Linked DNA regions of Homo sapiens: region 1 is linked to region 2. The links come from fine-mapping of genetic effects on gene expression. A gene starts in region 2. The other region holds a variant in brackets. All regions are shown on one strand. Distances are from middle to middle. Region 1 has its middle 7.9 kb from the start of PVRIG. Region 2 holds the start of STAG3 (STAG3 cohesin complex component).

Region 1 (2,901 bases), 50 kb before region 2:
CCTCCCAGGTTCAAGCGATTCTTCTGCCTCAGCCTCGTGAGTAGCTGGGATTACAGGCATGCACCACCACACCCAGCTAATTTTTTTTGTATTTTTAGTAGAGACAGGGTTTCACCATGCTGGCAAGGCTGGTCTTGAGCTCCTGACCTCAGATGATCCTCTTGCCTCGACCTCCCAAAGTGCTGGGATTACAGGCATGAACTACTGCACCTGGCCCACTGGCTAGTTTTGGGGATTTTTTTTTTTGTTGTTGTTTTGTTTTGTTTTGAGATGGAGTCTTGCTCTGTTGTCCAGACTGGAGTATAGTGGCACGATCTCAGCTCACTGCAACCTCCACCTCCTGGGTTCAAGCGATTCTCCTGCCTCAGCCTCCTGAGTAGCTGAGACTACAGGCATGCACCGCTATGCCCAGCTAATTTTTGTATTTTTAGTAGGAACAGGGTTTCACCATGTTGGCCAGGCTGGTCTCGAACTCCTGACCTCAAGTGATCCACCCGCCTCAACCTTCCAAAGTTCCAAAGTGCTGGGATTATAGGCGTGAACCACCGCGCACAGCCCACTGGCTAGTTTTTGTGTTTTTTTGTAGAGGAGTCTCACTATGTTGCCTATGCTGGTCTGGAACTCCTGGCCTCAAGCAGTCCTCCCACCTTCGCCTCCTAAAGTGTTGGGATTACAGGCGTGACCCCGGAAGAAGGATGCTGGCTCTGGCATGGGGAATGAAGGCTGGTGCCCTGTCACCCCCGTTCTGCAAACCTCCAGCGCTGCAAACATTGCTTCCCACCAAAGGGCCTCTTCTGCCACTCTTAAAATGAGCCAGGGTGTGTGTTCACTGGCAGCTTTGATAGTTAGAAGCTAGCAGCTGGCCATGGTTCAGTGGATGCTGGGTCTTTCCTGGGAGGGCAGGGGATGGCTTGTAAATGACATTAGCCAGCAGAGTTCCTTGTTCAATGTGAACGTTGTTAAGAGATTCTTGGTCTGAGCACAGTGGCTCATGCCTGTAATCCCAGCCCTTTGGGAGGCTGAGGCAGGTAGATCGCTTGAGCCCAGGAGTTCAAGCAGGTTGGGCAACATGGCAAAGCCCCGTCTCTACAAACAATACAAAAATTAATCTGGTGTGGTGGCACATGGCTGTGGTCCCAGCTACTCGGTGGGCTGATCATTTGAGCCTGGGAGGTTGAGGCTGCAGTGAGCCATGATTGTACCACTGCACTCCAGCCTGGGTGATAGAGCAACACCCTGTCTCAAAAAAAGAAAAAAAGGTCTTGGCTCAAATGGATGCAGTATGTCTGTGTGGCAGACAGAGGGGTTTGTACATGTGTATATTCTGATTTTTTACGTGTGTGTGTGACCGAGTCTTGTTCTGTCACCCCTGTTGGGAGTGCAGTTACACAATCTCTGCTCACTGCAACCTCCACCTCCTGGGTTCAAGCAATTCTCATGCCTCAGCCTCCTGAGTAGGTGGGATTACAGGCACTCACCACCACGCCCGGCTAATTTTTATATTTTTAGTACAGACAAGGTTTCACCCATGTTGGCCAGGCTGGTCTTGAACTCCTGACCTCAAATCATCTGCCTGCCTTGGCCTCCCAAAGTACTGGGATTACAGGCATGAGCCACCGTACCTGGCCTCTT[T/C]TAAGTATTTAATGAGCACTGTGTGCAGTGCTAGGTGTCCTGACAGATTCAGAATAACGTTAGAAGCCTCTGGGTAATGGGTAGAAGCTTAGACTTGGAGTTAGAGGGGCCCAGTGCTTATCTAGGCTCCACATCACCAGCCCTCACCCATCACAGTCCCCTTGTCTGTGAACTGGGAACAGCAGTACATCATTGTGGTCCATGCCACGCGTGGCAAGGCATGGTCAGCAGGCAGTGACTGATCAAAAGGTGGAGAGGTGGCCAGGCAAGGTGGCTGACACCTGTAATCCCAGCACTTTGGGAGGCCGAGGCAGGCAGATCACTTGAGGTCAGGAGTTCAAGACCAGCCTGCCCAACATGGTGAAACCCCTTCTCTACTAAAAATACAAAAAAAAAAGAGCCAGGCATGGTGGTATGCACCTGTAGTCCCAGCTACTCAGGAGGCTGAGACATGAGAATCGCTTGAACCCGGGAGGCAGAGGTTGCAGTGAGCCGAGATCGCGCCACTGCACTCCAGCCTGGGCAACAGAGTAAGACACTCTCCCTCAAAAAAAAAGCAGCAGCAGCTCTGGGTTCTTCCCAGGGTGGAGGCTGTGAGCAGGGCGGGTAGACCAATCCATCAGACAGGCTGCCTGCTCCTGGCCAGCTGCTGATTGACCTGAAATCCTCCAGCCAGCAGCAGCCGCCTCTTCCCCCACAGCCATGTTTCCAGCTGGTCTCAGGCCTGGGCTTCTCCCCAAGACCACTCTGGGTCTCGTCCAAACCTGCCAAGAGACTCCTAGTGGCAGAGTCTTGGTTATGTCAGCACCCCCTCAAGGTGCATATATGCACCCCAGCACTTCACCACCTCGGAGGCTATATCAGCAGCCGCTTCCGCTGGGGAGGACAGAGCCAGGATTGGCCCCTCGGAGTCCGAAGCCTGCGGCTTTGATAAGAGACAGGCCTCCCACTGCTCAAGACTGGGGCCGCCTTTTCCCATTTCTGTGCAGCTGCCTGCCTCTCTAGCCACCCACTGGCTGACCACTGGTCCTTCTCAGCCAGCGGGACCAATGGGCTCCCTGGGCTGTGGTCACCATGGTGACCAGAGCTGGGCAGGTAGGAACAGGCATGGGCCTCACTCAATTTCCCTCCTCTCAGGCCATCTTGCCTGCCAGCAGAGCCCAGCTCGTCTTTCCCCAGGAATCTTCATCATCACAGCTGCCTTAGCTCACCCATCTCTGAGCCCCTGTCTCCCTTTTTATCGATTTATTTTTTGAGATAGGGTCTGGC
Region 2 (2,901 bases):
TCATACTTGTAATCCCAGAACTTTAGGCGGCTGAGGCGGGAGGACTGCTTGAGCCCAGTAGTTCAAGACCAATCTGGGCAACATAGCAAGACCCCATCTCTACAAAAAATAAGCAAAAACTAGCTAGGTGTTGTTGCGCACACCTGTGGTCCCAGCTACTCAGGAGGCTGAGACAGGAGGACTGCTTGAGCCCAGCAGTTTGAGACCAGCCTTGGCAACATGAGACACACCCAAAAAAAAAAAAACAAAACCCAAGCAAGGTACACACCAGGGCAGCTTCAGACACAGCCCTCTCTAGAGGCTTCAGAAGTGTAAACTGCCTGCTGCAAGGGAATTTAACTCATAATTAAAAAAAAAAAAAAAAAGGCAAGGTGCCCAGGGTGGCTCAAACCTGGAATCCCAGCACTTTGAGCAGCTGAAGCAGGAGGACTGCCTAACCCTACGAGTTCAAAATCAGTCTGGGCAATATAGCAAGATCCTGTCTCTACGAAAAAACCAAACCAAAACCAAAAAAACTAGCCAGGTGTGGTGGTGCACCTGTAGTCCCAGCTACTCGGCAGAATGAAGCGGGACGATCGCCTGAGCCCAGGAGGTCGAGGCTGCAGCGAGCTATGACTGCACCACTGCACTCCAGCCTGGGAAACAGAGCGAGACTCTGTCTCAAAAAAAAAAAAAAGTAATGACAAATAAATAAAATAAGGCAAAGAGTGGACCTAAAGCACCAAGGGATTACAGACACCAGAAACTGGGCAGTGGGTTTGGAATTGCTCTCCAAAAGCCGAGGCGTGGTGCACAGTGCTCCCGCCTATAATCCCAGTACTTTGGGAGGGCGAAGCGGGAGCATCGCTTGGGTCCAGGAATTCAAGATCAGCCTGGGCCACATAGCAACGCCCTGTCTCTAAAAAAAAAAAATTAAATGGAAAAAAAAAAAAAAGCCAAGCAAGGCAGACAGCAGGGCAGCTTCAGACGCACCCCTCTCTGGAGGCTTCGGAAGTATAAACCGCCCTCTGCAAGGGAACTTACAGGTTTTTTAAAATGAAATAAAAAAAATAAAGAAAGAAATAAGAAAAAAAATACAAGAAGACCCCAGGCTTTCGTTTCCAGAGGACTAGCACCTGATTCCACCTGGAATGGAACAGGAGGCTCTTAAGGATTTGGGGGTGGAGGCGCCATGAGAATAGGGCTGGAAACGCAAAAGGAGGAAAGGCAGGTGCGCGTTTCCTATTTTTCCAGAAGGTAAAAATATCTACGACTGCCCCTGGGGTAAGCGGCTCCAGGATAAAGAGCCTTCCAAGCGCTTAAGAGAATGGACTCTCAGTCTATGGAGGCCTGGGGAGAGGATTCTCCAGCTCTGTGGCGGAGGCCATTGGGGCACGGCCCGGGAAGGCTCCTAGTGTCAGGGCCGGGAGGGTCGCGAGAGGGCCTATTCTTGGGTCAAGGAGAAACCTGTCAGAGCCTGGAAGAGTGACTTCTGGCCGAGCAGGGTTCAGGGAAGGTCCCCACCTCAGGTCCCTCGGGTGTCTCTGGCCACCCCACCTTCCACACAGGCGCCCGCCGCTGCCCTTCCGGGGGCGAAAGATTCCAGAAAAGCGCGGGAACGTACAAGACACGCTGTGCGCAAGCGCAATCCCAACGGCTCGCCCAGGGCCAGTAGCTATCGCGAGGTTTGGAAGTGTGCGAGCTGATGCGCGCCACGTTTGAGTCACGCCGCTCCACAGCCTCGTGTGGCCTCAAGCTCTCAGGCGTCCTGCCCTCTCACGTGGGCTTGGGCACGCGGGCGGCCCGCTTTAGCCCCGCCCCCACCCAGGTCCCACCCCCGCTACCCTCAATCTCCTACTCCATTGGGCGGGTTTTGGACCAGACTGCTAGTAACCCCTTTAATCTGGCTTCTCAATTGCCATAGGCTAGGTTCCACCCAGGCCCCGCCTTTTGAGCCGGATCGCCACGCCCCCGAGGGAGACCACGCCCCTATTTCACCAACCTCCTGAGTGCCAGCCGGGTCCCGCCCCCCTGCCGAGCTTCCGCGCTACATTGGCTTAATTTCTTCCTTGCCCCCGCCCCTGAAGCCGGCTCCGAGCCATTATTGGCGGGGCCCCGCCTCGGGCCCCGCCCCCTGTCCGGCTCCCCGCTCCCATTGTCTCGGCAGATGCCGCCTGGTCCAGCTATCGTGCTCGGTATTCAGTTTTCCGGAGCAGCGCTCTTTCTCTGGCCCGCGGAGCGGTCCCGCGGCCGAGTACCGGATTCCCGAGTTTGGGAGGCTCTGCTTTCCTCCTTAGGACCCACTTTGCCGTCCTGGGGTGGCTGCAGTTATGTCCGCGCTGCGACCTCTCCTGCTTCTGCTGCTGCCTCTGTGTCCCGGTCCTGGTCCCGGACCCGGGAGCGAGGCAAAGGTCACCCGGAGTTGTGCAGAGACCCGGCAGGTGCTGGGGGCCCGGGGATATAGCTTAAACCTAATCCCTCCCGCCCTGATCTCAGGTGAGGAGAAAGAGGAAGACTAGAGAATTGGGGGTGGGGGGCGGGGGCGGGGCCTCCTCATCTCACAATAACTCTCTTCCTTTTCAGAGTGACCGTTATACTAATCTTTTCATCCCACAGTAATGTCTGTTCTCCTCCTGTAACTTCCTTACCGGGATCACAATAACCCTCCTATGCAAAGAATAGCGCTCTTACTCCATCCCCACCCCAGGAATCCCCTCCTCCTAATTAACACCCCCTATGTGTTTCTTTCTTCACAGCCATGTTCTCCTCGCTGTTTCTATTAGCCCCTTCTATGAGAATACTTTATTGCTCACCAAGTAACCCCACCCTTCCAAGCCCCATTCTTCATCCCCTAGAAGCTGTTCTCCAAGTCCCTCGAGGTCTGGGGTGTGGACATTGGGGAGGGTCACCTGAGGACACTCT

The links. PIP is the estimated chance that this variant, and not a neighbour inherited with it, causes the effect.
Region 1: its variant is the best candidate, but not a certain one, in a credible set for the expression of STAG3 in whole blood (INTERVAL, PIP 0.66).

Annotation. Positions count from the first base shown.
Region 1 is chr7:100,226,384-100,229,284 of GRCh38, reverse strand. It overlaps the pseudogene CASTOR3P. Among named protein-coding and RNA genes, the nearest start is that of PVRIG, 7.9 kb to the right of the region's middle. The variant T/C (reference allele first, on the strand shown) is at 1,633.
Region 2 is chr7:100,176,608-100,179,508 of GRCh38, reverse strand. It overlaps STAG3 (STAG3 cohesin complex component), which reads right to left and starts at 1,591. Exons shown (of 34, transcript NM_001282717.2): 1 at 1,504-1,591. It overlaps GPC2 (glypican 2), which reads left to right and starts at 2,128. Exons shown (of 10, transcript NM_152742.3): 1 at 2,128-2,475. The coding sequence starts at 2,310. RefSeq lists silencers at 1,817-1,866, 2,047-2,166.